Regions from separate parts of the Homo sapiens genome. Here all the other regions are linked to region 1. Evidence: fine-mapped expression QTL. A gene starts in region 1. Each other region holds a variant in brackets. All regions are shown on one strand. Distances are between the middles of the regions. Region 1 holds the start of PTDSS2 (phosphatidylserine synthase 2). Region 2 overlaps HRAS (HRas proto-oncogene, GTPase). Region 3 has its middle 4.4 kb from the start of RNH1. Region 4 overlaps PTDSS2 (phosphatidylserine synthase 2).

What was found. PIP is the estimated chance that this variant, and not a neighbour inherited with it, causes the effect.
Region 2: its variant is fine-mapped to the expression of PTDSS2 in cerebellum (GTEx, PIP above 0.99).
Region 3: its variant is fine-mapped to the expression of PTDSS2 in whole blood (TOPMed, PIP above 0.99).
Region 4: its variant is fine-mapped to the expression of PTDSS2 in lung (GTEx, PIP above 0.99).

The regions. Positions count from the first base shown.
Region 1 is chr11:446,489-454,588 of GRCh38, reverse strand. It overlaps PTDSS2 (phosphatidylserine synthase 2), which reads right to left and starts at 4,310. Exons shown (of 12, transcript NM_030783.3): 1 at 3,952-4,310. The coding sequence starts at 4,133. RefSeq lists silencers at 3,626-3,715, 3,726-3,785, 3,976-4,215, 5,843-6,152, 6,243-6,532 and enhancers at 4,246-4,525, 4,124-4,810, 6,543-6,682.
Region 2 is chr11:525,121-533,220 of GRCh38, reverse strand. It overlaps HRAS (HRas proto-oncogene, GTPase), which reads left to right. Exons shown (of 6, transcript NM_005343.4): 5 at 466-590; 6 at 699-979. The coding sequence ends at 585. It also overlaps a transcript of LRRC56 not described here. Among named protein-coding and RNA genes, the nearest start is that of HRAS, 6.4 kb to the left of the region's middle. RefSeq lists an enhancer at 4,179-4,716. The variant G/A (reference allele first, on the strand shown) is at 4,457.
Region 3 is chr11:507,641-515,740 of GRCh38, reverse strand. It overlaps a transcript of LRRC56 not described here. Among named protein-coding and RNA genes, the nearest start is that of RNH1, 4.4 kb to the right of the region's middle. The variant T/C (reference allele first, on the strand shown) is at 3,486.
Region 4 is chr11:484,130-492,229 of GRCh38, reverse strand. PTDSS2 (phosphatidylserine synthase 2) reads right to left here. Exons shown (of 12, transcript NM_030783.3): 5 at 5,157-5,291; 6 at 4,760-4,810; 7 at 3,918-4,031; 8 at 3,583-3,701; 9 at 2,716-2,830; 10 at 2,497-2,642; 11 at 2,162-2,347; 12 at 831-1,810. The coding sequence ends at 1,648. Among named protein-coding and RNA genes, the nearest start is that of RNH1, 19 kb to the left of the region's middle. RefSeq lists a silencer at 4,222-4,362 and an enhancer at 7,372-7,893. The variant G/C (reference allele first, on the strand shown) is at 4,131.

The sequences.
Region 1 (8,100 bases):
GTGATCCACCTGCCTCGGCCTCCCAAAGTGCTGGGATTACAGGCGTAAAACTTGACTCCTTTAATACGACTTTCCACGACAGAGACCTTCCTGTGGTTTCTAAAGTGGCCACCAACCCAACACTCACTCCTTGTGTAGCCCAGGGAAACGCTGATCATTGATCAACCCTAACCCAACACCATCTTTCCATTTCCCCAAAACACAGAGATTACCTGAAATATAAAGGTAACCCTTCGCCCCTTCAGGTAAATGTGCACACTGTCATTGAGGTGGCCACCGAGTGCCCAGCACCCTCCTGGCCCTGGGGAAGCAGAAATGGGAATGAAGAGGACCCAACAGGAAGGGAGGCAGAGGGTAAGGGACCCAGAGAAAGGGCACCAGGCACAGCAGCCCTGCAGGAGGACACATCTCAGAGCTGCTCAAATCCAACGCTCCTGGAAAGTAAGGTCCGTATTAGTGAGCTCCAGTCCTTGTCCTACACGCAGCACGACGTCTACACATCTTGGAAGTGACAGAGTGCCGCTCAAGATAGCATGAGACTCTCAAGGGAAGAATTCCGTGTCCCTCCCAGGACGCCAGGTCTGTTCAATGGCTCCTCCCACCCGCCTGCAGACTCTGCAGGACGGTGTATGTCCTGTGATCAGACACAGAACAGAGCTGTGATCAATCCTGGCAATTCAGCCACTTCACTAGGGTGAGGGCGTGAAGACAGCTGGCTCCCTGCCATGGGGAGTGGAAAAGACCCAGCTGCCTCCTTGGAGATGGTCACTCTCATGTCCACTCTCATGGTGGGCAGGGAGGCCGAGACCAAGAGGAAAACGCGGCGTCGTCGTCCAAAGGGCCAAGGAAAGGCCACGCCTGGATGGGCAGCCCAAGGCCTGCGAGAGGCTCCTGGACCGGGCACTGGCCCTTCTGGCTCTGACCAGCAAGACCAGAAAGACTTCATCTGGCTACTCGCGCCTCCCAGGTGTAGGCAAAGCTGGGAAAGCCCCGATCCAGGATGATGGAGAAAGGCATCTTCCAGAAACCTGGGGTATCTGAAGGTCAGAGGTCACCTCACACATAAAGTCCTCAGGTCACTGAGAAGGCTCATTTGAGGCACCCCATTCCAAGACACAAGCATACAATAAAAACTCTCAGAACATCACAGTGGCCCCCAGCTCGGGAACTGGTTAGCAAGTGTGGTCATCCGAAGCTGCTTCAGCGTCTCCCACAGACAGGCGGCAACGTTCACAGGCACCTCGCCAGGGTAAGGGGTCCCCAAGTGTTCTCCCAAACAATTTCCAGACCGCATGAGCTGCCACATCTTCGCACAGGGCTTCTCGGAGTCTGTGGATCTAAACGTTTTCCTCTGGATGTTCCCCATAATTGTCCTTGCTACCCTGAATGAATCCAGAGAAGGAGAGCTCAGCCTCGTGCTCCCAGGGCCAGTCAAGCCCTGAATCGAACCGCACGCCCTATCCCTATGGCTGACAAGCAGTCACAGAGAAACAAAATTCACACATGGCCGCCGTCACTGGCCCGAGGAAGTGCACCCATCCTTGAAAATGAACGCCCTGGCTGGATGTGGTGGTGCATGCCTGTAATCTCAGCAATCTGGGAGGCTGAGGCGGAAGGATCACTTGAGGCCAGGAGTTGAAGACCAGCCTGGGCAACACAGGGGGACCCTCTATTAAAAATAAATAAATAAATAAAAATGAATAAAAAATAAAAAGTAAAACTCTCTAAAACACAAAATTAGAGTTAAAAAAATGCCAGCACAGCAAGTCAGTGCAGGTGGACTCAGGAGGTCAGTGTGAGGCTCTGCAGGTAATGAATTCTCACCAGGCAGGCATTGAGTTACCTGCCACCCAGAAGCGTGAAGCTCCTTCCTCTGCACAGGGAAGGGAGGAGGCACAGCAAGAACCTGCCCCATGCGTCTCTACAGGGACAGGGTCGAGGGGAAAGCCAGAGCCAGAGCCACCCACCCAGAAGACCCAGGAAGGAGGTACCTGGACCAGCCAGCCCCGCTGCACCCGCTCCTGGAGAGCCCTCCTGACCCCCTTGGCCTCCTGACAGGCAAGCTCTGCTGCGCCCAGCCGTCTGTGTCCCAAACACCCCTTGTGGGCAGGGACCACTGGTCTGGGCTTCTAAAGAGACCGGCCCCCTCCTACCTTTGGGCTGCTGCTCCTGCTTCCCTGGTACTGGGTGGGCTGCGCAGGCTTGCATGTGCCCCCTGGCTCCTGCCACACTCAGCACCCAGCCAGCACATTTTGAGCCTTCTGAAGTTCCATGCCTGCACCAGAATCTAAGCTTCTTGTTTAGTTCTCTGCTATGTCCCGTAGAACGGTAACTGACAGGCAGTAGGGGTCCCCACAATGTGCTGAACGGCCAAATGAGAAACAAGAAGAGCCAGTCTGGTCTCCTCGCTCCGGGACCTCAGAGGAGCCCGTCTGTTCTCCTTGCTCCGGGATGTCAGAGGAGCCCGTCTGGTCTTCTTGCTCCGGGACCTCAGAAGAGCCAGTCTGGTCTCCTTGCTCCAGGACCTCAGAGACTCCGGTGGTCCCCAGCTGTGCTGCGGGAGGACAGCCTGAAGGGGTGTGGCAGGGCACCTGATGGAGAGGCCTGATGTCCACAGGGCCCGGAAGCCAGAGGGTCCACGTGGCAGGCACCCCATCTCCTCTCCCTCCCGAGGGCCCCGCAGCCACCCGGTACACTCATCTCCCCAAAGGAGAGCTCGGATGCCCTCCCTGCAACAGCAGCTGCCCACACCTCACGGAAGACCCTGCGTGGGGCCTCCTCCACCCTAACCTGCTTTCCCACCACTTGGACAGTCTCTCTCCAGAGCTTCGGCTGCGGTGACAGGCCAGGACCGGTTAAGTCCCTGTCTGTGGTGGCGCCTTCCCCTGACAAGTCCCTTACTCCTCCATCAGGCCCTCCTCGCCCCTCAGATTTGCTCTCCGACCATCCCACAGCATGGTTCTCTTGGAAGCGTCCATAAAGCCTTCCTTCCACTGCTGGCCGCAGGCGCCTGTCTCCCACACGTTTTCCTGGGGCTGACCCCACCTCTACTGCCCCTGTGCCCCCGGGCCTTCCACAGGATGGGAACTGGGCACCTTGCAGTCAAGAAGAGCCAAACCCTCCTCTCACGAAGCCTGCTTTCAGGTCGACGGCTTGATCCTTCTCACAGAGGAGCATCGGCAAAGGGCCAGCCCAGGGTCGCAGCTGTCGGGAGTAGGAGCGGCACCTGGAGCCTGTCTGGACACAGAGTGCCACACTCCAGCTGCTCCCGGGGGCCTCTTCCTTTTCCACCCCCATTAAAGGCAGAGTGGCGGACAGGGGGACCCCAAGGTGTAGCTAGGGCTGAGTTGTGCAGGGAGGAGGCGCTGGCCCCGCTAGGGGCAACTGAGGAGAGAAACAGAGCCTGGATTCGACGAACACCGACTACATTCCTGAAGCACGCACAACACTCTGCTAATCAACACGATCGCCACGTGGGGTCGGGCGCGACACACAAGATGATTTCGTGCAGCCGCAAGCACTGAGGAGCAACCACAGGCAGAATGACGGGGGACACAGGTGAAGCTTCGACAGCAGGACAGAGAAAGCGTTTCTGGGGTGACGCTGGAGGCGGGTGGCGGGGAAGGGGTCTGGATCGCAGAACCGCGCGGTCAGAGCCAAGGCGGGCAGGGGTGGGGAGGGCGGCGAGAGAGACGCAAAGCGGCCGCAGGGAGGGTCTGCCCAGGGTCTCCCCCACCTACAGCGCCGCCCTCCGCCCGACCCGGCGTCGGGAGCTCGGTCCGGCCGCTCCCCGGGACCCGGGGGGCGGTGCTGCCACACCCTCAAACCCCCGGCCACAGTCCTGGACTCCAAGACGGCGAGAGGGCGCTGCCGGGGACCCCCAGGCCAGCGGTGCCGGAACCCCCAGGTCGAGGGCACCCTCGCCGCCCCGCGGCCGCCCACTGCCCTCACCAGAAGAAGGTGTTGGTGCCGTCGTCGTAGACCTCGGACTCGGTGCTGCGGCGGCCCTCGCCCGGCCCGGTGGCTTGGCCGGCAGACGGCCCGTCAGGCGGCTCCTCCAGCGAGGCCCTGCCCGCGGGCACCGGGGACTCGGGCCGCGGACCTCCGGCGTCCCTGCGCTCGCCCCTCCGCATGGCGTTTCGGCCCGGAGCCACTCCGCCCGGCGCCTCGACCCCACGCACACCGGGTCACCGGCGAGAGGACGCGCCGCACACAGCGCGAGGAGCGCTGGGAAGGGGTCGCGGCGCTGGCCCGCGGGGTCTTAGGAGAGCAGCGCGGGGCCGGCCAGTAAAGGGTGTGCGGTGCATTGTGGGGCTTGTAGTCCGCGCGGGGCATGCTGGGCCTTGTGGTCCGACGTCGCGGGTTGGACGCAGTGCTTGCTGGGAAGGATGACGCCTGGTTGCTGGGAAACCGGAGCCGGACCGCCCTGCGGCTGAGGTCGCAGGAACCAAGCTGCGGATGGCGCGGGTCTCGCCAAGGCCTCCAGAGCTTGGAGGTAACCACAGACATCCCCGGCGGCCTGGCCCGAGTCCCTCCACCCCTTCGCCCCTTCCTCGCCGACGGATCCCGGAGCCCAGCCCCGTTCTCCTTTTGGGGCGCTTCCCGACCCTTCACCCCATGCGACCCGGGTCATTCCTTTTTGAGACGGAGTCTCGCACTGCCGCCCGAGCTGGAGTGCAATGGCGCGATCCCGGCTCACTGCAACCTCCGCCTCTCGGATTCAAACGATTCTTCTGTCTCAAGCTTCCCGAGTAGCTGGGATTACAGGCGGCCGCCATCACGCCCGGCTAATTTTTGTATTTTTAGTAGAGACGGGGTTTCACTATGTTGGCCAGGCCAATCTCGAACTCCTGACCTTGTGATCTGCCGCCTCGGCCTCCCAAAGTGCTGGGATTACAGGCGCGAGCCACCGCGCCCGGACCGGTCTGGGTCATTCTTTCGCAGGATCGCGTGAAATTGGGCGGGCGAAAATGGTGCGGACACGCTGATTTTAGTTGACCCAAATTGTTGACATGGTACCCTGCAAAAAAATTAGCTCCTGAGCCACTCTGAAAAGCAATGTGGCAGCTCCTCAAACCTGGAAACAAGTGTCCACGCCAAATTTACACACTAGCGCTCCTAGTTGCAGCATTTTGATAATAGCGGCATGTTATTAGCCATAGAGGAGCGAAGCATGCGCATGCTACAGCACAGCTGGACCTTGAAAACATTATGCTAGGCAGGCCGGGCGCGGCGGCGCACGCCTGTCATCCCAGCACTTTGGGAGGCCAAGGCGGGCGGATGACTTGAGGTCAGGAGTTCGAGACCAGCCTAGGCAAAGTGGTGACACCCCATCTTTACTAAAAATACAAAAATTGCCCTGGCATTGTGGCGGGCGCTTGTAATCCTAGCTACTCGGGAGGCTGAGGTGGGAGAATCCCTTAAATCCGGGAGGTGGAGGTTGCAGTGAGCCGAGATTGTGCCACTGCACTCCATCCTGGGCGACAGAGCGAGACTCCGTCTCAAAAAAAAAAAAAAAAATGCTAGGTGAAAGAAGCCAGTCACAGGAGACTACGCATTATGTGATCCATTTGTATGAAATGTCCAGGAAATGCAAATCTATGAAGACAGAAATTAGATGAGTTTTCACCGGGGGCTGGGGAAGGGGTAATAAGGAGCGACTACAAAGGGTAGCAGGTTTCTTTCGGGGCGATGAAAGTGCTGTAATATTGACCTCAGCTCCTATCTGTGAATGTCCTAAAAACCACTCAACTGTCCACTCGAAACGAGTTGAATGGGTGAACTGCATGATATGTGAAGTATATCTCATATCAGCTTTATTGAAATATAACTCACATACTAAATATATAAACATATTTGCGGGGCTCCTGCACAGCCACGCCCAGCAGGGATGGGGCCTGACTGTGATGGGACCTTCACCCCAGCTCCTGACACACAGGCTGGGCAGTGCGGGAGGCGCTGGCTCCAGGGGGCGTGCTGTTGGGCCTCCCCAGGCCTGGCCCCCTGCCCCAGGCCCTGGCCGCGTCCAGCTGGGGTCGGCTGAGTGGCCAGAGCAGCCAGCTCCCGTCCATGCCATCTTTCCAGCAATCACCCGACAGGCCTGGTTCCCTGTGAACCATCCTTCAGGTCCCCTCCCAGACCTCTTCCCATCCCAGCAGGTGGCGCTCACATTCCAGGCGCCCTCTCGGTGGCGTTGGGGTCATTTCCTGCGTATGGGTGTTCTCTCAAACTGCACAGAGAGCCCTCCTGCCGTCCCTCCAGGGTGCAGAGGCCGGGGCGGGGAGATGTACCGGCCCCACTGGGGTCCCTGGCCCCAAGGAAGCTGCGCGCGAGGCCGCCTCGCAATGACGCTCGTTCCTGTCGGCTCGGGGGCGGGGCCCAAGGGCGCGTGAGGGGCGGGGCCGAGGACATGGTCTGTGGGCGGGGCCTGAGGGCGGGGCCTTGGGACCCGGAGTAGCGTGATCTAGACCGCGCGGCCCCGCCAGACCGCGCGGCCCCGGGCGCGCAGACCACGTGTTCGTTGCCCATCACTACGGAGCTCTGGCCACGTGCCAAGTAGAATTCCCAACGCTTTGTAAATGCTAACTATTGTGATTTTTTTTTTTTTAAGCGTAGTCTCACTCTGTCACCCAGGCCTGGAGTGCAGTGGCGTGATCTCGGCTCACTGCAACCTCCGCCTCTCGGGTTCAAGCGATTCTCCTGCCTCAGCCTCCGGAGTAGCTGGGATTAAAGGCGCCCGCCATCACGCCCGGCTAATTTTTGTATTTTTAGTAGAGACGGGGTTTCACCAAGTTGGCCAGGCTGGTCTCGAACTCCTGACCTCAGGTGATCCACCCACCTTGGCCTCCCAAAATGCTGGGATTACAGGCGTGAGCCACCGCGCCGGGCCAACTATTGTGATCTTAACACACCCCCTTAGGTTCTATTTTTGACTGTCGCTTAGAGACAAAAAAACTGTGGCAGAGAAGGCCGGGCGCGGTGGCTCAAGCCTGTAATCCCAGCACATTGGGAGGCCGAGGCGGGTGGATCACAAGGTCAGGAGATCGAGACCATCCTGGCTAACACGGTGAAAGCCCATCTCTACTAAAAATACAAAAAATTACCCGGGCGTGGTGGCGGGCGCCTGTAGTCCCAGCTGCTCGGGAGGCTAAGGCAGGAGAATGGTGTGAACCTGGGAGGCAGAGCTTGCAGTGAGCTGAGATCACGCCACTGCACTCCAGCCTGGGTGACAGAGCAAGACTCCGTCTCAAAAAAAAAAAAAAAAAAAAAAAAAGAAACAAACAAAAAAAAAACTGAGGCAGAGAAAGGTTGGTGACAGCTACGCCCAGCTCTTTCCAGACCCCAGAGCCTCTACCCTGAACCCCTGCACTCTACAGGGAGCTCTCCACCTGCAGTTTTGCACCTGGCGTCTCATATCTGAGTCTCACATTACCCTGTCCCTGTCTTCACCCCAGCTGCAGAAGTGCACACCCCTCCCCACCCAGGCATGTGTGGACTGGCAGAGTCCATTGCAAGACGTGGGCCTGAGGGGCAGGGGTGAGGCCGGAGGTTTGTGGCTCAGGGAGCACCGTGGCTGGTGAGGAGGCAGTGGAGCAGCTTGGAGGACTTGGTTCTTTGAGGCCCCAGAGCAGCAGAACTGGGGGTCCCCCGCCTGGGGAAGGGTGCACGGGACAGAAGCCTTCCTCAGCTGCAGAGATGCCTGCCAGAAGCCTCAGGGCGCTGGAACTTTTAAGAAAATGGTCAATTCTGGCCTTACCCAGGGACAGAGCTGGCCAGAGTCACATTTATGGTGGTAAATAGTGAATGTTGGCGAAATGCTTTCTAAAAATGCCCTTGCAAGGAAGGGAGAGGAAGCCTAGGAATTTGTAAAGTAACAAATGCCTGTTGTAATATTTCCCCTGGTGCGGTAAATCCATAAAGGTGAGTGGATTACAGAAAAACTCACCGTGCCACACGCACACCTGTGCCCGGGAGTTTTCTCTGGCTTGTTGGAGGGAGCGTGGACAGCAGGACTGCTCCCCAAGTCAAGATGGTTAAGGCCTGGAGGTGTTGGGGAGGCAGCAAGGAGACAGAGTTGTCCCTGCAATGAGGACGGGAGGG
Region 2 (8,100 bases), 79 kb before region 1:
ACGCCCTGCAGTCCTGGGCCGACACAGCTCCGGGGAAGGCGGAGGTCCTTGGGGAGAGCTGCCCTGAGCCAGGCCGGAGCGGTGACCCTGGGGCCCGGCCCCTCTTGTCCCCAGAGTGTCCCACGGGCACCTGTTGGTTCTGAGTCTTAGTGGGGCTACTGGGGACACGGGCCGTAGCTGAGTCGAGAGCTGGGTGCAGGGTGGTCAAACCCTGGCCAGACCTGGAGTTCAGGAGGGCCCCGGGCCACCCTGACCTTTGAGGGGCTGCTGTAGCATGATGCGGGTGGCCCTGGGCACTTCGAGATGGCCAGAGTCCAGCTTCCCGTGTGTGTGGTGGGCCTGGGGAAGTGGCTGGTGGAGTCGGGAGCTTCGGGCCAGGCAAGGCTTGATCCCACAGCAGGGAGCCCCTCACCCAGGCAGGCGGCCACAGGCCGGTCCCTCCTGATCCCATCCCTCCTTTCCCAGGGAGTGGAGGATGCCTTCTACACGTTGGTGCGTGAGATCCGGCAGCACAAGCTGCGGAAGCTGAACCCTCCTGATGAGAGTGGCCCCGGCTGCATGAGCTGCAAGTGTGTGCTCTCCTGACGCAGGTGAGGGGGACTCCCAGGGCGGCCGCCACGCCCACCGGATGACCCCGGCTCCCCGCCCCTGCCGGTCTCCTGGCCTGCGGTCAGCAGCCTCCCTTGTGCCCCGCCCAGCACAAGCTCAGGACATGGAGGTGCCGGATGCAGGAAGGAGGTGCAGACGGAAGGAGGAGGAAGGAAGGACGGAAGCAAGGAAGGAAGGAAGGGCTGCTGGAGCCCAGTCACCCCGGGACCGTGGGCCGAGGTGACTGCAGACCCTCCCAGGGAGGCTGTGCACAGACTGTCTTGAACATCCCAAATGCCACCGGAACCCCAGCCCTTAGCTCCCCTCCCAGGCCTCTGTGGGCCCTTGTCGGGCACAGATGGGATCACAGTAAATTATTGGATGGTCTTGATCTTGGTTTTCGGCTGAGGGTGGGACACGGTGCGCGTGTGGCCTGGCATGAGGTATGTCGGAACCTCAGGCCTGTCCAGCCCTGGGCTCTCCATAGCCTTTGGGAGGGGGAGGTTGGGAGAGGCCGGTCAGGGGTCTGGGCTGTGGTGCTCTCTCCTCCCGCCTGCCCCAGTGTCCACGGCTTCTGGCAGAGAGCTCTGGACAAGCAGGCAGATCATAAGGACAGAGAGCTTACTGTGCTTCTACCAACTAGGAGGGCGTCCTGGTCCTCCAGAGGGAGGTGGTTTCAGGGGTTGGGGATCTGTGCCGGTGGCTCTGGTCTCTGCTGGGAGCCTTCTTGGCGGTGAGAGGCATCACCTTTCCTGACTTGCTCCCAGCGTGAAATGCACCTGCCAAGAATGGCAGACATAGGGACCCCGCCTCCTGGGCCTTCACATGCCCAGTTTTCTTCGGCTCTGTGGCCTGAAGCGGTCTGTGGACCTTGGAAGTAGGGCTCCAGCACCGACTGGCCTCAGGCCTCTGCCTCATTGGTGGTCGGGTAGCGGCCAGTAGGGCGTGGGAGCCTGGCCATCCCTGCCTCCTGGAGTGGACGAGGTTGGCAGCTGGTCCGTCTGCTCCTGCCCCACTCTCCCCCGCCCCTGCCCTCACCCTACCCTTGCCCCACGCCTGCCTCATGGCTGGTTGCTCTTGGAGCCTGGTAGTGTCACTGGCTCAGCCTTGCTGGGTATACACAGGCTCTGCCACCCACTCTGCTCCAAGGGGCTTGCCCTGCCTTGGGCCAAGTTCTAGGTCTGGCCACAGCCACAGACAGCTCAGTCCCCTGTGTGGTCATCCTGGCTTCTGCTGGGGGCCCACAGCGCCCCTGGTGCCCCTCCCCTCCCAGGGCCCGGGTTGAGGCTGGGCCAGGCCCCTCTGGGACGGGGACTTGTGCCCTGTCAGGGTTCCCTATCCCTGAGGTTGGGGGAGAGCTAGCAGGGCATGCCGCTGGCTGGCCAGGGCTGCAGGGACACTCCCCCTTTTGTCCAGGGAATACCACACTCGCCCTTCTCTCCAGCGAACACCACACTCGCCCTTCTCTCCAGGGGACGCCACACTCCCCCTTCTGTCCAGGGGACGCCACACTCCCCCTTCTCTCCAGGGGACGCCACACTCGCCCTTCTCTCCAGGGGACGCCACACTCGCCCTTCTCTCCAGGGGACGCCACACTCCCCCTTCTGTCCAGGGGACGCCACACTCGCCCTTCTCTCCAGGGGACGCCACACTGGCCCTTCTCTCCAGGGGACGCCACACTCCCCCTTCTGTCCAGGGGACGCCACACTCCCCCTTCTCTCCAGGGGACGCCACACTCCCCCTTCTCTCCAGGGGACGCCACACTGGCCCTTCTCTCCAGGGGACGCCACACTCCCCCTTCTGTCCAGGGGACGCCACACTCGCCCTTCTCTCCAGGGGACGCCACACTCGCCCTTCTCTCCAGGGGACGCCACACTCCCCCTTCTCTCCAGGGGACGCCACACTCCCCCTTCTCTCCAGGGGACGCCACACTCCCCCTTCTCTCCAGGGGACGCCACACTCCCCCTTCTGTCCAGGGGACGCCACACTCGCCCTTCTCTCCAGGGGACGCCACACTCCCCCTTCTCTCCAGGGGACGCCACACTCCCCCTTCTCTCCAGGGGACGCCACACTCCCCCTTCTGTCCAGGGGACGCCACACTCGCCCTTCTCTCCAGGGGACGCCACACTCGCCCTTCTCTCCAGGGGACGCCACACTCGCCCTTCTCTCCAGGGGACGCCACACTTGCCCTTCTGTCCAGGGAATGCCACACTCCCCCTTCTCCCCAGCAGCCTCCGAGTGACCAGCTTCCCCATCGATAGACTTCCCGAGGCCAGGAGCCCTCTAGGGCTGCCGGGTGCCACCCTGGCTCCTTCCACACCGTGCTGGTCACTGCCTGCTGGGGGCGTCAGATGCAGGTGACCCTGTGCAGGAGGTATCTCTGGACCTGCCTCTTGGTCATTACGGGGCTGGGCAGGGCCTGGTATCAGGGCCCCGCTGGGGTTGCAGGGCTGGGCCTGTGCTGTGGTCCTGGGGTGTCCAGGACAGACGTGGAGGGGTCAGGGCCCAGCACCCCTGCTCCATGCTGAACTGTGGGAAGCATCCAGGTCCCTGGGTGGCTTCAACAGGAGTTCCAGCACGGGAACCACTGGACAACCTGGGGTGTGTCCTGATCTGGGGACAGGCCAGCCACACCCCGAGTCCTAGGGACTCCAGAGAGCAGCCCACTGCCCTGGGCTCCACGGAAGCCCCCTCATGCCGCTAGGCCTTGGCCTCGGGGACAGCCCAGCTAGGCCAGTGTGTGGCAGGACCAGGCCCCCATGTGGGAGCTGACCCCTTGGGATTCTGGAGCTGTGCTGATGGGCAGGGGAGAGCCAGCTCCTCCCCTTGAGGGAGGGTCTTGATGCCTGGGGTTACCCGCAGAGGCCTGGGTGCCGGGACGCTCCCCGGTTTGGCTGAAAGGAAAGCAGATGTGGTCAGCTTCTCCACTGAGCCCATCTGGTCTTCCCGGGGCTGGGCCCCATAGATCTGGGTCCCTGTGTGGCCCCCCTGGTCTGATGCCGAGGATACCCCTGCAAACTGCCAATCCCAGAGGACAAGACTGGGAAGTCCCTGCAGGGAGAGCCCATCCCCGCACCCTGACCCACAAGAGGGACTCCTGCTGCCCACCAGGCATCCCTCCAGGGATCCCTCATTGTCCACAACTGCTGGAGAACAGAGGGCTCCGTGTCTGGCTGTCCCACAGTGAGCAGCAGTGAGCGCATCTGAAGTCTGAGCTGCTGAGACCCCCTCCTGCAGGAACCCATCTTCTGGCAAAAACCTGAACTGAGGATCACCCTCTGCCCACACCCACAGGGGCCCATCCTGGTGGCTCCTCCAGTGCCAGGCTCTGCCCCATCAGGGTCTGGGGTCTCAGCCAGATTTGTGTCCAGGGCAGGGAGGCTGCAGAGGTTAGGTTGGGTCCAGCACAGGACAGGGCTGGAGAGCACAGCCAAGGAAGGTCGGGTCCGTCTCCTCCCCTCTGACCTCGGACGTCTCGCCTGTCAAATGGCGTGAGTTCGTATCCACCCCACGGGGTCGCCGTGAGGTGAACGAGACAGTCATTTTCATAGTCCGTGTGGAACAGGCACCCGCTGAGTGCTCAGGGATGGCCCTTGGCAGCCACGTGGAGGCCAGCGCAGGCCACCTGTTAGTGACTGTCACCATACCATGGGGGAGGGCAGCTGTGTTGAGACCCACCTCTCACCTCCGGACGCAGAGCCCCCCCTCGGACACCCACTGTGTCTCCAACTGCTCCGCACACAGCCGGCACTTGGCACCGGTGACGTCATGGGGTGGCTGCACACATCACAATAGGGCCCCGCGCAGGTCAGCTGGGCCTGGAGTCAGCGTCCTCCACCCCCTGAACTGGCAGCATGTGTGTGCACGT[G/A]TATGTGGGTGAACGTGTGCGTGTGTGTGTTTCTTCTCCAGCTAGGCCTGGCTGCCCCACTAACGTGCACACAGGTCCTTGTCACTGTCACCCCCGTGGCTCGAGACGATCGTCAGAGCACCCGCGGAGGCACCACACTCGGCCCTCTCCACCCGGGGTGGTCCTGGGGATGCAGACGCGGGGAGGGGGTTGGCCCCCTTCCTCGGTGGACTCAGGTCTTCTGTAAAGGGCTGGGTTCAGTGTCCCTCTGTCTCACCTTCTTGAGCCCTGCTGGGTGTCATGAATGTCCCCCCTTGCTGGAGGCCCTGCGGACAAGCCCCCCTGCCTGAGGTCCCCTAGCAGCCAGCTGACCAGGTCCCACTGATTGACAGGCCCTGCTGGGCTGCCGAGGGGGTGGAGGAAGCCTGTGGGGAGGTGGGGGACTCACCTGTGTGACGTCAGCTTCTGTCCCGGGCGCCGCCTGCCCGTCGGATCACATCCCTGCTCAGGACTCGCCACCAGCTGCCTCCTTACGATGGAGTGATGGAGCCCTCTGATAGCTGAGAGTCCGCCACAGCGATCCCACAAGGCCACGCGTAAACTCTCCCAACATCCATCCAGGGAGGCCTGGATAAAAATGTAGAGTTTCAGGCCGGGCACGGTGGCTCAAGCCTGTAATCCCAGCACTTTGGGAGGCTGAGGCGGGTGGATCACCTGAGGTCAGGAGTTCAAGACCAGCCTGGCCAACACGGTGAAACCCTGTTTCTATTAAAAATACAAAAATTGGCCGGGTGCGGTGGCTCACGCCTGTAATCCCAGCCCTTGGGAGGCCGAGGCGGGCGGATCACCTGAGGTCAGGAGTTCGGGACTAGCCTGACCGACATGGAGAAACCCTGTCTCTACTAAAAAAATACAAAATTAGCCGGGTGTGGTGGTGGATGACTGTAATCCCAGCTACTTGGGAGGCTGAGGCAGGAGAATCGATTGAACCCAGTGGGTGGAGGTTGCGGTGAGCCGAGATCGCGGAATTGCACTCCAGCCTGGGCAACAAGAGCGAAACTCTGTCTCAAAAAAAAAAAAAAAAAAATTAGCCGGGCGTGGTGGCGGGCGCCTGTAATCCCAGCTACTCGGGAGGCTGAGGCAGGAGAATGGCGTGAACCTGGGAGGCAGAGCTTGCAGTGAGCCAAGATAGCGCCACTGCACTCCAGCCTGGGGGACAGAGCAAGACTCCGTCTCAAAAAAACCAAAACTAAACAAAACCCTTACCCTATCGTTTTGCCAAGTGCATGACTCTCTGCTGTGAGGCAGTCAAACTCAGAAGCAGAAAGTAGGGTGGCCGTGGGCAGGGGCTGGGGAGGGGAGCTGGGAGTTGCTGTTCAACTGATAACAGATTTCAGTCTGGGAAGATGCGTGAGTCCCAGAGTTCACTGCGCAAGGTGCTCGTGGTTAGCACAGTGCCACACGGCACGTTGCAAATTTTTTTTTTTGAGATGGAGTCTTGATGTTGGCCAGGCTGGCATGCAGTGGCGCGATCTCAGCTCACTGCAACCTCTACCTCCTGGGTTCAAGTGATTCTCCTGCCTCAGCCTCCTGAGTAGCTGGGATTACAGGTGCCCGCCACCACACCCGGCTAATTTTTTTGTATTTTTGTAGAGACGGGGTTTCACCGTGTTAGCCAGGATGGTCTGGAGCTCCTGACCTCATGATCTGCCCGCCTCGGCCTCCCAAAGTGCTGGGATTACAGGCGTGAGCCACCGCACCTGGCCAGTCCCAAAATTTCTAACATTAGAAGATTGGTGTGTGTGCCTGTGCATTTTTGCTGAACAATATTTCTTTTTTTTTCTTTTTTTAGACGGTGTCTCGCTCTGTCGCCCAGGCTGGAGTGCAGTGGCGTGATCTTGGCTCACTGCAACCTCCGCCTCCCAGGTTCAAGCAATTCTCCTGTCTCAGCCTCCCCAGTAGCTGGGACTACTGGTGCCCACCACCATGCCTGGCTAATTTTTGTATTTTTAGTAGAGACGGGGTTTTGCCATGTTGGCCAGGCTGGTCTCCAACTCCTGACCTCAGGTGATCCACCCACCTGGGCCTCCCAAAGTGCTGGGATTACAGGCATGAGCCACCGTGCCCGGCCACTGAGCAGTATTTCTTTGTAGGGATGTAGCACAGGTTGTTCACCTGCTAAAGAATATTTAGTTTGCTGCCAGATCTTGCCTGTTACGACTGGAGCCTCCTCCATAGGCATTTGTGTACCGTGCCCCCCGAGGACGTAGACTTTCAGTTTGTTAGGGGAGACACTGGGGGCGGGGTTGCTGGGTCCTGTGGTATGTGCCTGACTCTGCACCTGACTGTCCAGCGTGCCGGGCCCCTTGCCTTCTCAGCCGGGATGCATCGGAGTCCTGTCGCCCGTGATTTTCATCTTGGGCGTGTTGCGGGATCTCGTTATGGTTTCAGTTTGCAGTTGGCTGGTGGCCACAGCCTGGACGTCTCCTTAGCGCTGTGTGCCTGCTGCAGGTCCCCTTTGCTGAAGTTTTTGTTCAAGTCTTCATCTTATTTTTAGTTTTGTTTTTATTTTATTACTTTTGAGACGGAGTCTCACTGTCGCCCAGGCTGGAGTGCAGTGGTGCGATCTTGGCTCACTGTAGCCTCCGCCTCACAGTTTCAAGCGATTCTCCTGCCTCAGCCTCCCGAGTAGCTGGGACTACAGGCACCTGCCACCACGCCCGGCTAATTTTTTATACTTTTAGTAGAGACACGGTTTCACCAGGTTGCCCATACTGGTCTTGAACTCCTGACCTCAGGTGATCTGCCTGCCTTGGCCTCCCAAAGGGAAGGATCATGCCGGGATTATAGGTGTGAGCCACCGCGCCTGGCCTATTTATTTATTTGTTGGAGACAGGGTCTGGCTCTGTCCCCCAGGCTGGAGTGTGGTGTGATGGTAGCTCACTGCAGCCTCAACCTGCCTGGCTTAAGTGATCCTTCTGCTTCAGTCTCCCGAGTAGCTAGGACTACAGGCGTGCACCAGCATGCCTGGCTAAATGCTTTTTTAATTTTTCGTACAGACCAGGTCTCACTATGTTGGCCAGGCTGGTCTCAAACTCCTGGCCTCAAGTGATCCTTCTGCCTCAGCCTCTCTAAGTATTCGGATTACAGGCATGAGCCACTTCACCCAGCCCTTTGTTCATTTTGGAAACTGGTTTTTTAATTTGGTTATGTTTTTGAGATTTTTTTTTTTTTCTTTGAGACAGGGTCTCACTCTGTCACCTCTGTCACCCAGGCTGGAGTGCAGTGGCGCGATCTCGGCTCACTGCAAGCTCCGCCTACTGGGTTCACGCCATTCTCCTGCCTCAGCCTCCCGAGTAGCTGGGACTACAGGCGGCCGCCACCACGGCCGGCTAATTTTTTGTGTTTTTAGTAGAGATGGGGCTTCACCGTGTTAGCCAGGATGGTCTCGATCTCCTGACCTCGTGATCCGCCCGCCTTGGCCTCCCAAAGTGCTGGGATTACAGGCGTGAGCCACCGTGCCTGGCCTGATTTTTGTATTTTTAGTAGAGACAGGGTTTCACCATGTTGGCCAGGCTGGTCTCAAACTCCCGACCTCAGGTGATCTGCCCGCCTCGGCCTCCCAAAGTGCTGGGATTACAGGTGTGACCCACCGCGCCCGGCCC
Region 3 (8,100 bases), 61 kb before region 1:
TCAGCCTCTGGAGTAGCTGGGATTACAGGTGCCCGCCACCACACCTGGCTACTTTTTGTATTTTTAGTAGAGACGGGGTTTCACCATGTTGGCCAGGCTTGTGTCAAACTCCTGACCTCTGGTGATCCACCCGCCTTGGCCTCTCAAAGTGCCAGGATTACAGGTGTGAGCACTGTGCCTGGCCTCAGAACTTATTATAAGCCAAAATGTAAGGCCTACAACTGTAAAATGTGCGTTAAGAATGAAAAGGAGGATGTCAGTGTGACTTGGGTTAGAGAAATGATTCTTAAACACTAAAAGCATGACACATAAAGGAAAACCTGATCCACTGGACATCATGAGAATGAAGGGTGTGTGCATTTTGAAAGGCCCTGAGAAGACAAGCCCAGGCTGGCAGAGGCATTAGCAAATATCCCGTCTGAGGAAGGACTCATCTGCAGCATCTATGACAAGCTCCCAGGAGTCATGGGGTGCTGTGCTCTCGGCAGATATGGGAGAGCCTCCCATCCCATCATTCGTGTCTCCGGAGCAGCACTGCTCAAAGTCCCCTACCAATGCCCTCCTCAGCCGACAGACCTGACCCTCCCCACATGTGCACCCACAGGCCAGGCCTTGTGGGTCTTCTTGGGACATGACCCCAACTTCAGGAGGAGGAAAGTAAGAAGAGGAAAATCAATGAAAAGAAAAAAGAATTTACTGGTGGCCCTTTCAAGTCTTTCTGTCAAACGGCCCAATTTCAGGTTCAGCCAGGCAGTGGTGACAAGGCAGCCCTGTGTTCTGCCCAGTTCCAAGGGCTCCACCGCCTCTGTGGGTGAGAAGCAGCAACCAGCCGGGGAGAAAACCATCTAGCTGCGTCAACCTCGGTAGTGCTGGAAGTTAGCACAGGCGGGCCTGGGTTACCACGGTTCAGTTCTAGACACCGCAATAACACAAATGTCGCAATAAAGCCAGTCGGAGGGATTTTTCGGTTTTCCACTGCATATAAAAGTTATGTTTATACCACAGTGCAGTCAGGTGTGCAATAACATTATGTTTACAAAACAATGCATATGCCTCAATTTAAAATACTTTATTGACCACTCCTCACTCCCTCCCCAACTGGGCTCCCACCACCCTACCCTCCCTCAAGACCAAAAAAACAATAAATAATAATAATAATAGGCTGGGCACAGTGGCTCACACCTGTAATCCCAGCACTTTGGGAGGTCAAGTGGGCAGATTGCATGAGCTCAGGAGACCAGCCTGGGCAACATGGTGAAACCCTGTCTCTACCAAAAATACAAAAAATTAGCCGGGTGTGGGGGTGTGCACCTGTGGTCCCAGCTACTAGGGAGACAGAGGTGGGAGGATTGCTTCAGCCTGGGAGGCAGAGGTTGCCGTGAGCCGAGATAATGTCACTGCACTCTAGTCTGGGCAACAAAGCAAGACCTCGTCTCAAAAAAAAAATGGCTGGGGGTGGTGGCTCACACCTGTAATCCTAGCACTGTGGGAGGCCAAGGTGGGCGGATCACCTGAGGCCAGGAGTTCGAGACCAGCCTGGCCAACATGGTGAAACCCCGTCTCTACTAAAAATGGAAAAAAATCAGCCGGGTGTGGTGGTGCGTGCTTGTAGTCCCAGCTCCTCCGGAGGCTAAGGTAAGAGAATCGCTTGAACCTGGGAGGCGGAGGTTGCAGTGAGCCGAGATGGTGCCACTACATTCCAGCCTGGGCAAGAGAGTGAGACTCTGTCTCAAAAATTAAAAAACAAACAAACAAAAAACTAAGATACTGATAGAAAGTGCCAGCAATCACCTGAGGCTTGAGGAAGTTGGGATCTCTTTGCTGGTGGAAGGTCTTGTTTGTGGCTGCTGACTGATCAGGGTGGTGGTGGCTGAAGGCTGAGGTGGCTGTGGCAATTTCTTCCTTTTTTTTTTTTTTTTTGAGATGGAGTTTTGCTCTTATGCCCAGCTGGAGTTCAATGGCGTGATCTCGGCTCACTGCAACCTCTGCCTCCTGGGTTCAAGTGATTCTCCACCACACCCGGCCAGCAATTTCTTAAAATAAGACAACAATAAAGCTGGCCACATTGAGCTTCTTCCTTTCACAAAAGATTTCTCCGTAGCACGCGATGCTGTTTGGTAGCATTTTGTCCACAGCAGACCTTCTCTCACAACTGGAAAATCCTCTCGAACCCTATCGCTGCTGTACCAACGAAGTTTATGGAATATTCTAAATCCTTTGTTATCTCAGCAATGTTTAGAGCATCTTCACCAGGCGCAGATTCCATCTCGAGAAAGCACTTTTGCTGGGTGCGGTGGCTCACACCTGTAATCCCAGCACCTCGGGACACTGAGGCGGACGGCGGGCAGATCACTTGAGGCCAGGAGTTCGGGACCAGCCTCGCCAACATGGTGAAACCCTGTCTCTAATACAATACAAAAATTAGCCGGGCATGGTGGCGTGTGCCTGTAATCCCAGCTACTCGGGTGGCTGAGGCAGAATTGCTTGAACCCAGGAGGCAGAGGTTGCAGTGAGCCGAGATTGCGCCACTGCGCTCCAGCCTGCGTGATATTCAAACTGGAAGAGCAGAGCGAGACTGTCTCGAAAGAAAAACAAAACAAAACAGCTTGAAGCGGCAGGGTTACAGCTCTGCGACGGCCCCTGCAGGCGGGGTGTGCTGGGCAGAGTGTGCTGAGAGCAGCAGCTCAGGACAGTTCTGCAGCCACATTTACACCCACTTTTAATTTCATGTAGATTAAGGGGCAGCCCAGGCAAAAGTTTCTAGGGAAGGGGTAGTAACTTTTGGGTCGTGGGGTCATTGCCATGGAAAGGGGTAGTAACTCCCACCATGCCTGGCCTGTTTACTTTCACTTCCAGCTTGCCCTTGAATTGTTTCCTGGGCAAAGCCAGGAACCCTCGAGGGGCTCAGCCCCACTGTGGGTCTTGCCTGCCCTCCATCAACTAGAAGGCGACGTAGCATTGAGTTAATCCACCATTACTTTAAATGGCATGGATACCACTCATATAGTATTGAGAAAAGGAAGTCAGATACAAAAGAGAACATGCAATATAATTCCATTTATATAAAGTTCAAAATAGGCAAAGTTAGTATGAGGGCTAGAAGAGTGGTGATTTTAAACCTCCGGGCCTTTGTACACGCTGTTCCATCTACCAAGGGTGCCCTTTCCTCGCACCATGTAAACGCAAACGTATGGATCAAGTTACCTCCTTGCCAGGCGCGGTGGCTCAGTGTCATCCCAGCACTTTGGGAAGCCGAGGCAGGCAGATCATTTGAGGTCAGGAGTTTGAGACCAGCCTGGCCACCACGGTGAAACCTCATCTCTACTAAAAATACAAAAAATTAGCCAAGTGTGGTGGCGGGCACCTGTGATCCCAGCTACTCAGGAGGCCGAGGCGGAGAACTGCTTGAACTGGGATGCAGAGGTTGCAGTGAGCTGAGATCATGCCACTGCACTCCAGCCTGGGCGACAGAGCGAGACTCCATC[T/C]CAAAAATGAAAACAAAAAGGCTTTGTGGCTCACACCTATAATCCCAGCACTTTGGGAGGCCAGGGCAGGCAGATAACGAGGTCAAGAGATTGAGACCAGCCTGTCCAACGTGGTGAAACACTGTCTCTACCAAAAATACAAAAATTAGCTGGGTGTGGTGGCACGCACCTGTAGTCCCAGCTACTCGGGAGGCTGAGGCGGAAGAATCACTTGAGGCCAGGAGGCGGAGGTTGCAGTGAGCCGAGATCACGCCACTGCACTCCTGACTGGGTGACAAAGTAAGACTCCATCTCAAAAAAAAAAAAATTCGCCTCCTAACCTCACTGAGTTAACTGATCAAGACCTCTCATGCTCTGCCGCTGCACAGCTGTCCCTCCAGCGCCTTGTCTGTGTGTGTGGGGGGTGGCTGGTGTTTTGAATATCTTCCGGTTCCCAGAGGCTAGCTCAGTGTCTGACAGGGCCCTGTGGGAGTGTCTAATTCTCACAGCATCTCCGTGCAGGAGGGAAGGAGAGGGTCACGCCTGGGCCCTGAGGCATCTTGTATCTGAGGCCCCCACATCAGCACGGATCTCCAGAGGCATATACTGTCCTGCCGACTGGTCTGCTTTCTGTCTGATTGAAATTGGAGGCTCAAAGCCAAGACCTTCTCACTTGCAGTGAAGAACCCTTATGGGGCAAAGTTTTCCCCTCAACCTGCTCTATCATGAGCTCCTCCTGCTAAGTGGCAGAGCTTAGCCCGTGAATCAGAGGATACGCTACATTTCAAACCTTAGGAGCAGTCCTGTCACCAAAATTCAGCTGGTCATTGTCAGTTTAACTACCCACTACGTAACCACTCACGTATGAACCTGCAACAGCCACCAATCAAGTTGAATTCTCAAATATTTGCTACTTCATCCTCAATGTTTTCCCATTTCTTTTTTTTTTTTTTTTTGAGACGGAGTCTAGCTCTGTCGCCCAGGCTGGAGTGCAGTGGCGCGATCTTGGCTCACTGCAAGCTCCGCCTCCCGGGTTCACGCCATTCTCCTGCCTCAGCCTCCCAAGTAGCTGGGACTACAGGCGCCCGCCACCACGCCCGGCTAATTTTTTGTATTTTTAGTAGAGACGCGGTTTTACCGTGTTAGCCAGGATGGTCTCGATCTCCTGACCTTGTGATCCGCCCGCCTCGGCCTCCCAAAGTGCTGGGATGACAGGTGTGAGCCACCGTGCCGGGCCAGTGTTTTCCCATTTCACGTGCTGCGTGTGAAAATCCACTGCGTGCGACACTTGCGCTATGTGCACTTTATGTACACATCTCATACTTTGTTAAAAAGGCACTTTCAGACAAACATATTATTTATTTATTTAGAGACATGGTTCACTCTGTCACCCAGGCTGGAGTGCAGTGGTGTGGTCTCTGCTCACCGCAACCTCCACCTTCTGGGTTCAAGTGATTCTCCTGCCTCAGCCTCCCAAGTAGCTGGGATTACAGGTGCAGGCCACCACGCCCAGCTCATTTTTTTGTATTTTTTTTTTGAGATGGAGTTTTGCTTTTTGTTGCCCAGGCTGGAGTGCAATGGCGTGATCTCGGCTCACCAGAACCTCTGCCTCCTGGGTTCAAGCGATTCTTATGCCTCAGTCTCCCGAGTAGCTGGGATTACAGGCATGTGCCACCATGCCTGGCTAATTTTTGTATTATTAGTAGAGACGGGGTTTCTCCATGTTGGTCAGGCTGGTCTTGAACTCCCGACCGCAAATGATCTGCCTGCCTTGGCCTCCCAACATGCTGGGATTACAGGTGTGAGCCACTGTGCCCAGCCATTTTTTTGTATTTTTAGTAGAGATGGGGTTTCACCATGTTGGCCAGGCTAGTCTTGAACTCCTGACCTCAAATGATCCGCCTGCCTCGGCCTCCCAACGTGCTGGGATTACAGGCGTGAGCCACCGTGCCTGACCTGAGTATATTTATAGAAGTAGAACAGGCACAGGACTCTCCACCCAAAGTCACCCTGGTGCCTCTCTCCCCGGGGTCTGACTTAGGCCTTCAGCACCACGGTGTTTTCTCTAGATGGCATCTCATGAACACTGGGGGTCTCTTGCCTCAGCCTGTCCCTGGATTCCCTTTCATGGGGAATGTAAAAGCTCCCTATTTAAGCTAACGTGTAGGCTGGTGGGGCTGGATGTGAGGGAGGGGCAGGTGGAGAAGGAAAGGGCAGCATCCCTCAGATCTGTGTGGAGCAGGATCGGAAGGAAAGGCACACTCGAGTCGGCCAGGACCCGGGGAAATGAGCGAGAATGGTCAGCTCTGGGGCGGTATATAAAACTGGGGGTGGGAATACTTCCATATACTCCCAATTCCACAGTGGGTGAACTGAGTAAGTTTAAAAATAAGATAAAGACATAACGAGGTGAGGCAGGTAAGTTCAAAAATAAAAATGAAGGCCAGGCACTTTGGGAGGTTGAGGCGGGCGAATCACAAGGTCAGGAGCTCGAGACCATCCTGGCTAACACGCTGAAACCCTGTCTCTATTAAAATTACAAAAAAAAAAAAAAAAAAAAAATTAGCCGGGCGTGGTGGCAGGTGCCTGTAGTCCCAGCTACTCGGGAGGCTGAGGCAGGAGAATGGCTTGAACCTGGGAGGCGGAGCTTACAGTGAGCCGAGATCGCGCCACTGCACTCCAGCCTGGGCGACAGAGCGAGACTCCATCTCAATAAAATAAAATAAAAATGAAGACATACCTTTCAGGGGCTGTGGCCGCACTGTCCAGGAGGGAGGCCCGGCCACAGACACCATGCTGGCCGTGCGCTCAGCACCTATACATACCTGGGCACCTTCCCCACAAGGTGTCACAAAAGGGAGCCCAACAGCCATTTTAAACATTTTCTTCACTCTTATGAGAATTGCCACGAACAAATCTAAGAGATCATGGCAAAGAAAAGAATGAAATGAAACCAGAACATTTCAGCAGCTTTTGCAAAGATGTCAAGAGAACCAGTCCAGGAGTCAGACTGGCGGCATCCTTCCAGCTTCTTGTCATGAATTCTAAACCTCACATCCAGACTCCAAAGCTTAGAGAGTTAAAGAATCAGCTACTGGTCACCAAGCTCACGTGTGCAGGATGAGGGTCACAGCCAGGTTGGCTGCCTTCCAGCCCTGAGCTTTCTTGGGGGTGTGTGTGTGTGTGTGTGAACCACCTTCTTTTTGAGACGGAGTTTCTTTTTTCTTTTTTGAGATGGAGTTTCGCTCTTGTTGCCCAGGCTGGAGTACAGTGGCACGATCTTGGCTCACTGCAACCTCTGCCTCCTGGGTTCAAGTGGTTCTCCTGCCTCAGCCTCCTGAGTAGCTGGGATTACAGGCATGCACCACCATGCCTGGCTAAGTTTTTGTAATTTTAGTAGAGATGGGGTTTCATCATCTTGGCCAGGCTGGTCTTGAACTCCTGACCTCAGGTGATCTGCCTGCCTTGGCCTCCCAAAGTGTTGGAATTACAGGTGTGAGCCACCGCGCCCAGCCAGAGTTTCATCTTGTTGCCCGAACTGGAGTGCAATGGTGTGGTCTAGGCTCGCTGCAACCTCTGCTTCCCGTGTTCAAGCGATTCTCCTGCCTCAGCCTCCCAAGTAGCTGGAATTACAGGTGCCCACCACCATGCCTGGCTAATTTTTGTATTTTTAGTAGAGATGGGGTTTCACCACGTTGGCCAGGCTGGTCTTGAACTCCTGACCTCAGGTGATCCACCCTTCTCGGTCTCCCAAAGTGTTGGGGTTACAGGTGTGAGCCACCACGCCCGGCCAGAACCACCTTCTTTAAAGATGATCAGGCCGGGTGTAGTGGCTTATGCCAGTAATTCCAGCGATATGGGAGGCTGAAGCAGGAGGATCACTTGAGCCCAATTCAAGACCAGGCTGGGCAACACAGGGAGACCTCTTCTCTACATAAAATACAACAATTAGCCAGGCGTGCTGGCGCCTGTGGTACCAGCTACTTGGGAGGCTGAGGCGGGAGGATCACTGGAGTCCGGGAGGTGGAGGCTGCAGCGAGCTGGGATCGCGCCACTGCAGTACAGCCTAAGCAGTGGAGTGAGACCCTGTCTCGAAAACAAATACCTAATAAAGGCAGTCAGAGGAGAGGTTTAGCAAATTGCTAAAGAACAAATCTGAGATACCGTTAGTTTCCTTACTTGCAATCTTCATCTGCCAAAATGTCAATTCTGTGAATTGCGGACTAGTCAAAAACTTAAAGAAAACCCACTTTTGTGGAGGTGGGGTCGCTTTGCGTTTCCCAGGCTGGTCTGGAACTCGGCCTGCGCCCCTCAGTGCCAGGGCTCCAGGCGACGCTCGGGTGTCGGCAGCAGAGTGGACGCAGGAGCAGCTCGGACCGCGCTCAGAACACTCGGGACGAGGCCGCGGCTCCGCAGGCCTTGCGGGCTGGGGTCCCACGAAACAAAGGCGGCAGCCAGTGGCCAGGACGGGCAGCGTGGTTCACGGGGCCGTGGCTCCCTCGGGGGTCGCGAGCTCGGCGCAAACGAGCCCCTCTACCAAGGTCGCCTAGAGTCGCGACCCCGACATGCGGAGCCGCCCCAGGGGGGTTTCTCCCGGGTCCCTCCTGTCCCGAGGCGGCCGCTTTCTCCGGGGGCC
Region 4 (8,100 bases), 38 kb before region 1:
AGGAGGCAGAGGTTGCAGTGAGCCAAGATCACGCCACTGCACTCCAGCCTGGCTGACAGAGTGAGACTCCATCTCAAAAAAATAGTGGCTCAAGCTGGGCATGGTGGCTCACGCCTGTAATCCCAGCTCTCAGGGAGGCAGAGGCAGGAGGATCACTTGAACCCAGGAGTTCGAGATCTGCCTGGGCAATATAGCGAGACCCCGTTCTCCACAAAAAGGAAGGAAAGAAAAAGAAAAAAAAACATAAAAATAGTGGCCCGAGAAGGCGGCTGCCCCTCCCCAGGAATCCTGTGTCCACTGCCCAGTGTCTGCCAGCCTGGGACAAACACAGCACCCCAGGAATCCTGTGTCCACTGCCCAGTGTCTGCCAGCCTGGGACAAACACAGCACCCCAGGAATCCTGTGTCCACTGCCCAGTGTCTGCCAGCCTGGGACAAACACAGCACCCCAGGAATCCTGTGTCCACTGCCCAGTGTCTGCCAGCCTGGGACAAACACAGCACCCCAGGAATCCTGTGTCCACTGCCCAGTGTCTGCCAGCCTGGGACAAACACAGTACCCCAGGAATCCTGTGTCCACTGCCCAGTGGCCGCCAGCCCTTGGACAAGCGCAGCAGAGGGTGGGTGCCACCTGGACCCTCCTGGAGAATGGGAGAGGGGCTGCATCTGGCACCTGCTCTCTCTGGGGGGTGGGGCGGGGCAGGCGCCAAGTCTTTGCTCAGGTGCAGAGGCTGAGTGCCTCCTGTCCTCTGTGTGGTTTTCCCCAAGTGGGCACTGGGCATGAGGGCAGGCTGGAGGGCTGCACTGGACCCCAAAGCAGGACACGGGGAGCTGGGGGGAGGGCTGGAAGCCTCAGACGTTCGTTGTCACTTTATTGGTTCTCTTTGCTCGTGAAGATGACCCTCACCTTGGAGCCACGGAGGCAGCATGACCCCAGCACCCGGGTTCCAGGCCCCCTTGAGGGGCAGCTCAGTGATCTCTGACCCCATCATCCACGTGTCCTCCGGGGTGGTCTGTGTGAAAGGAAGGCTCGGAGGAGGTGGCTCAGCATCGCTGCCTGGATCCGCTGCCTCTCAGCCACGGAGTGTTTGTGGACGAGCGCCCACACGAGCTGCGGGGGAAGTGGATGTGGAGCCAGTGTAGACGCCTCCAGGCCTCAGCGCACCCAGGGCCCACGGAGTGCAGAAAGGGTACCGAGATGTCCCTGCCTGGACCACACCATGGCTGGGTGACAGGGAGCTTGGTGGGCCAGAGGCCACGGGGCTGACCAGGCAGAAAGGGGAGGGAGGACCCTGGTTCCTGAGGGACACACTGCCCCAGAGCATGCCCTTGCCACGCCAGCCAGCTCCCAGCTCTGGAGAAGCCTCGGAGCCCAGAGCACACGTGCACACCACAGGCGGCCACGCATGTGTACACACGCGCGTACACACGCGTACACACACGCATACACACGTACACACGTGTACACATGGAGATGAGGCTGTGCTGGGGCCTCCTCCACCCCTCGCCTTCAGCCTCGCCAGGTGCACAGGAGAAAAGCAAAAAACCTTGAGGGCAAGGCCGGGCACGTGGCTCCTGGTGGGACTCACACAGGAGGAGGCCACGGAGGCCTGGGCTCTGGGAGGCTCACGAGGCAGCCACGGCCCAGGTCAGTTTGGAGTTGGTGCTCCCTCGCCCTCGGCCACCCCAGGCCCCAGCAGGTCTTCGTCCAGCCCCAGTGGGTGCTGGTCCCCGTTGCCGACGGTGCTGCCCTGGTCATCCTTGTTCTGCCACTTCTGCCACCGGGTCTCCTTGTACCTCAATGTGATGTCCCTGGGGAGCGGGATGCAGCGTCACCACCTGCCCCCACACCAGCCCCACTGCAGGCCCCATGGACAGCTGGCACCTAGTCCCTGTGGAGGTCCGGAATGGACTGGGTGGGTGCCGGGTACCCTGGCCCTGGGACGGCAGCCGTGGCAGACTGGAGCCCTGAGGAGCCTGGATCTGTCAGTGCAGAGCGAAGGCCCCGAGGGCTGGGTCAGGAAAGGCGCCTCCCGCAGAGGCGGCCAGAGGGTTGAAGCAGGGACAGTGAGACACCAACGACACCAAACTCCCACAGTGCCTGTGCCAAGGGACCCGGACAGCGGCCCTCCTTCAGAACATACGCGCCCTGCCCTGACTCACCGCAGGAAGAAGCGCCAGACGGTCCAGGTGAGCGCCAGGACGGAGCCGAGGGTCCAGCACTGGGAGATGTAGAAGGGCAGGGACAGGGTGAGCGTGTGGGGGTCGTACTTCACCACGATGAGCAGCTCCGTGGCCGTGATGGCCGCCACCAGCCAGGCCTGCGGGCCCAGCTTCTTGTGGGGCTTCCTGCAGGGGCAGCAGGGGGTTCAGCGTCCCGGGCCCCGCAGGGTCCTCCAGGCGGACTTGCCCAGGCTCCGGCCTCCCAGGCTCTGCTCCCCAGCCCTCCGGCCCCTGCCCCCCGGGGGTGTCTCCACCCGGACTGCCGCAGCCCTCACGGGTCATCCATGAAGTCGTAGATCTCACGCATGGCCACGCCACCCACGTTCACGAAGAAGACGAGCCGCAGGAGGACCAGGTAGTGCTCCGGGGGCATCCACAGCACAAACTTCAGGTAGAACGTGTTCAGTTCTGCCAACAGGAACTAGGGGAGGAGAGGGTGAGCACCAGCTCTGGCCCCCCGCCCGCCGCGCCGTCGCGAGGCAGCCCGGCCTTACCACCAGGATGATGCCGCACACGGCCAGCCAGCGACGCAGGCTGGAGGCCGGCTTCCACTCGAAGCGAACCCAGCTGTACGGCGTGAACTGGAAGGCGATCCTCTTCATCTTGCCCCTGGGAACCACAGAGCCGGCAGCCTGAGGAAGGCAGCCCACCGAACCCTGCCCTGTGCCATCGGGCAACAGACTGTTCCTGGTCACCCGGCCCCGCCCTGTGCCATCGGACGAGCTCTGCTCTTGGTCACCCCGCCCCGCCCTGTGCCATCGGGCCACAGACTCTGTTCCTGGTTACCCAGCTGCTGCCCGGCTGTTCTCCGAGGTCTGGCCACCCAGCTACAAGCCCTGCTTCTCCACGGCCCTCTGCTGTTCAGTCTCTTCCAGCTTGAGCAGTGGCTGCAGCGCCTCAGAGGGCGCTCCACGGTGCCGTGAGCTAGCCATGTCTGCAGAGCCAGGCAGAGCCGGGGCACCCACAGGCAGGAGGGGAGACCCCCGTCCCCCAGGCCTTTCCTTAGACTTCTGTTTCTTTTTTAAATTCCAAAGTCATAATGACAAAGTACCTGCAACTATTTCATAACCAAAGCAACCAAGGGAGGGAGAAGCACGGAATGATCCCACAGCCCCTGCGCCAGGCCGGCCAGGGATTGAGGAGGGAGGTACGTGGGTCAGACGCCATGGCCACTGTGAGGGGCGGCCGGGCTTGAGTGACACCAGGTCAGAGGGAGGTTCCAGGAGGCAAAGCCCCACGGTCACCCCTCCTGAGCCGCACACTGGACGGGCCTGGTGCTCGGGGTCTGCTGGAGCACGGACGCTGAGGCTGCCTCCAGGTAACCCCCACCCGGCCCTGCCCTCGCAGCCCCCACGACGTACTTGTAGGTCGGAATGTTCCAGAGGCCCTGCCACTTGTACGTCTTCAGGGACAGCCACTCAAGGGTCTTCATGCCGCAGTAGATGCCCAGCCCGTTGCAGACGAGCACGTCCATGATCCACTGCAGGGAGGGGCCAGCACTCGTTGCAGGGGTGAGGGGTAACGAGCCCCCCGAGGAGGACCCCGGAAGAGCACAGGGGAACCGAGAATGCCCCTCAGCCTGCACCCACTGCCCCCCGGGGAGAATGAGGGGGTCCAGGGGCCGCGCTGGGCACAGGGGTTCCGAGAATGCCCCTCAGCCTGCACCGACTGCCCCGGGGGCTGTGCTGGCACCTACGTGATCCCACCAGCACTCGCTGAAGTTGGGCAGCTGGTGCTCCAGGCTGTACTCCAGGAACTCGAACATCACGCTGATGATCATGCACATCCACCAGTCTCGGATCATCAGGGTCTGTGGGCGCCAGGGTCAGCCAGAGTATGGGACGCCGGCCACACCCGGCCCTGCCCACGGGTGCGTGCAGCCCCCACCCCGGCTGGCAGCCAGAGTATG[G/C]GACGCCGGCCACGCCCGGCCCTGCCCACGGGTGCGTGCAGCCCCCACCCGGCTGGCAGCCAGAGTATGGGACGCAGGCCACGCCCGGCCCTGCCCACGGGTGCGTGCAGCCCCCACCCCGGCTGGCAGCATTCTTGGAGTCGACAGCACTGGCAGGGCCCCCAGTGAGGTCTCAGGGTGAGCGTGGGGTGGGTGGCTGCCCCTCCAGCAGCCTCGATGTACGACTGTCAGCAAACAAGGCAGCATCCCCGTGCCCGGGGCCTGACACCAAACTCTGCCAGGGTGGGCTGCAGGGTCAAGCAGGCACTGCTCTTAGCCCCATAGGTAGCACAGGGTCCCTCAGAAGTGGGATGGGGCAGTGCCCAAGCCCAGGCAGGGGCGGGACTTCCTGCCCTGCCGCCTCTTTCCACCGCCCCGACCCTGAGGACGGAGCGGGGACCCGACCAGGATCAGGGCTTCTGGGAGGTCCGGGAGCCCCACGGCTTCTCGAACCTCTGGGTGGCTGCAGTGCGACACCCTCCCACCACACTCAGAGCACCCTGAGCTCAACTCCATGGACAGAAACGGTCCAGAGCCCACGGCAGGCCTCAGAACCGGGGCGGGGAGGCCGGGAAGAGGAGGTGCCGTACCTTCAGGTACCAGCCAAGAAAGTGCGCGGGAACAAAGCCATCCAACTTGTCCTGTGGGCGACAGGGTATGACCCTTGACCCTGGGGCACAGCCACCCCCACTCCCCACACCGGCAGATCAGCCCACACCTGAGCAGCACCTGCCAGACCCCGGGAAGAAGGCCAGGGACTCACAGGTGCTGCCGTGGCCTGTGGAGACCACGTCCACGACAGCCTAGAGAGCAGGGGCCCCCTGCCCACCATGAGCACCATCCAGACGGACAGGGCCTCAGCACATCTCTGCACCAGGAGACCCCAAGTGTGGGCTGAGGGGTGCGAGGCAGGAGCGTGGATGGCGCCTGGTCCGGCACGGGGCCACACCTGGGGAGGGGCTCGCCTCAGGGCCCCCGGCGTCTTACCCAGATGTTGTGAAAGGGGTCAGTCTCATTGTCTGGGTCGTAGATGAGGCAGTTTCCCCCGTAGTCTCTCTCTGGCAGTGGGACTCCCAGCTTGGGGTCAACATACTTTAGAAACTGCCGGCCGTCCTGGACAGTCTGCAAGGCCAGTGCCCCCGTCAGCGGGGCTACAGTTAGTGGTGGCAACTTGAAACGGGAGATCATGGTTGTTTATTTATTTTATTTTTTTGAGATGGAGTCTCGCTCTGTCGCCCAGGCTGGAATGCAGTGGCGTGAACTGGGCTCACTGCAAGCTCCGCCTCCTGGGTTCACGCCATTCTCCTGCCTCAGCCTCCCGAGTAGCTGGGACTACAGGCGCCCGCCACCACGCCCGGCTAGTATTTTTTTTTTGTATTTTTAGTAGAGACGGGGTTTCACCGTGCTAGCCAGGATGGTCTTGATCTCCTGACCTCGTGATCCGCCCACTTCGGCCTCCCAAAGAGCTGGGATTACAGCCGTGAGCCACCACGCCCGGCCAGGAGATCATGGTTGTAAACTGCATCTCAGTCACCCTGGAGGAGGGCAGCGCCCTGTCTCAGCAGCCCTCCCCACCCCAGGGAAATCCTGGTGGGGCAGCGCGTGGGGAAGGAACCCCCAGGCACGACACCCCATCTCCACACCTGCGCTCCCCGGGGCCAGGTGGGCACAGGTGCGCTTCAGGACATGGGGGTCTAGGACCGCTGGACAGACGGGAGCGGGATGGGGCCCTGAGTTACTGCGGCGCGCCGCCCCCACCCCGACCCCTCCCCGCATGCGCGCTCAGGCCAACACCCTCACAGGAGTCGCCCTTGTGGAACCTGCTCTTTCCTCACCCAGACGCTGGCATCAGCCAGATACACCTCTTGACCTTAGGGCAAGGCAGGCTTTTGGGCCTGACGTCAAGGGAGGTTTACATCATTTACAGACACCTGTGCTCACAGCACACACGCACCAGGGCACCAGCTGTGTTTACACTCGCCTGCGCACACGGTGAACACACACGCCCGTGCACTGTTTACACTCGCCTGCGCACACGGTGAGCACGCGCGCCCGTGCACTGCTTACGCTCGCCTGCGCGCACGGTGAGCACACGCGCGCCCGTGCACTGTTTACGCTCGCCTGCGCGCACGGTGAGCACACGCGCGCCCGTGCACTGTTTACGCTCGCCTGCGCGCACGGTGAGCACACGCGCGCCCGTGCACTGTTTACGCTCGCCTGCGCGCACGGTGAGCACACGCGCGCCCGTGCACTGTTTACGCTCGCCTGCGCGCACGGTGAGCACACGCGCGCCCGTGCACTGTTTACGCTCGCCTGCGCAGTGAGCACACGCGCCCGTGCAGTTTACACTCGCCTGCGCAGTGAGCACACACGCGCCCGTGCGCTGTTTAAACTCGCCTGCGCACAGTGAGCACACACGCGCCCGTGCACTGTTTACACTCGCCTGCGCAGTGAGCACACGCGCCCGTGCAGTTTACACGCCTGCGCACACGGTGAGCACACGCGCCCGTGCACTGTTTACACTCGCCTGCGCACACGGTGAGCACACGCGCCTGTGCAGTTTACACTCGCCTGCACAGTGAGCACACACACCCGTGCACTGTTTACACTCGCCTGCGCACACGGTGAGCACACACGCGTCCGTGCACTGTTTACGGTCGCCTGCACACACACAGCACACATGCCCATGCACTGTTTACAGACGCCTGCGCAGTGAGCACACACGCGCTCGTGCACTTACACTCGCCTGCGCACACAGTGAGCACACACGCGCCCGTGCACTGTTTAAACTCGCCTGCGCAGTGAGCACACACGCGCCCGTGCAGTTTACACTCGCCTGCGCACAGTGAGCACACACGCGCCTGTGCAGTTTACACTCGCCTGCGCAGTGAGCACACACGCCCGTGCACTTACACTCGCCTGCGCACACAGTGAGCACACGCGCCCGTGCACTGTTTACACTCGCCTGTGCACAGTAAGCACACGTGCCCGTGCAGTTTACACTCGCCTGCGCACACAGTGAGCACACACGCGCCCGTGCACTGTTTACGCTCGCCTGCGCAGTGAGCACACGTGCCCGTGCAGTTTACGCTCGCCTGCGCACACAGTGAGCACACACGCGCCCGTGCAGTTTACACTCGCCTGCGCAGTGAGCACACACACGCCCGTGCACTGTTTACAGACGCCTGCGCACAGTGAGCACACGCACCCGTGCACTGTTTACACTCGCCTGCGCACACGGTGAGCACACGCGCCCGTGCAGTTTACACTCGCCTGCGCACAGCACACACACCCGTGCACTTACACTCGCCTGCGCACACGGTGAGCACACGCATCCGTGCACTGTTTACGCTCGCCTGCACACACACAGCACACACGCCCGTGCAGTTTACAGACGCCTGTGCACACAGTGAGCACACATGCCCATGCACTGTTTACAGATGCCTGCGCAGTGAGCACACACGCCCATGCACTATTTACAGATGCCTGCGCAGTGAGCACACACGCGCCCGTGCACTGTTTACACTCTCCTGCGCACACAGCACACACGCACCCCTGCACTGGCTGTGTTTACAGACGCCTGCACACACAGTGAGTGCACACATGCCCGTCCTCTGTGAGCTATGGCACCCAGGACCACGCAGCCCACCCAACACCCAGGCCTCAGTTCCTAATATTCAGTAAGGACCCAAGGCTCTTGGAGAAGGGGCTGATTCCAGGACCAGGGTGGGGAGTGGACAGGAGGAGCCTGGAGCATCCCGCAGTGCTAGGAAGTCAGGATGTCCTCAGAAAAACAAAACGAAAAGCCAAGAACTCCGTGAGGGTGTGTGAAAGCAATACAGGAACCACGTGGAAATTCCTTTTGGCAAAAGAATTTGGGCACCACGATAAATAGAGCAGCGCTGAAATAAATATGCAAGTGTAAGACAAG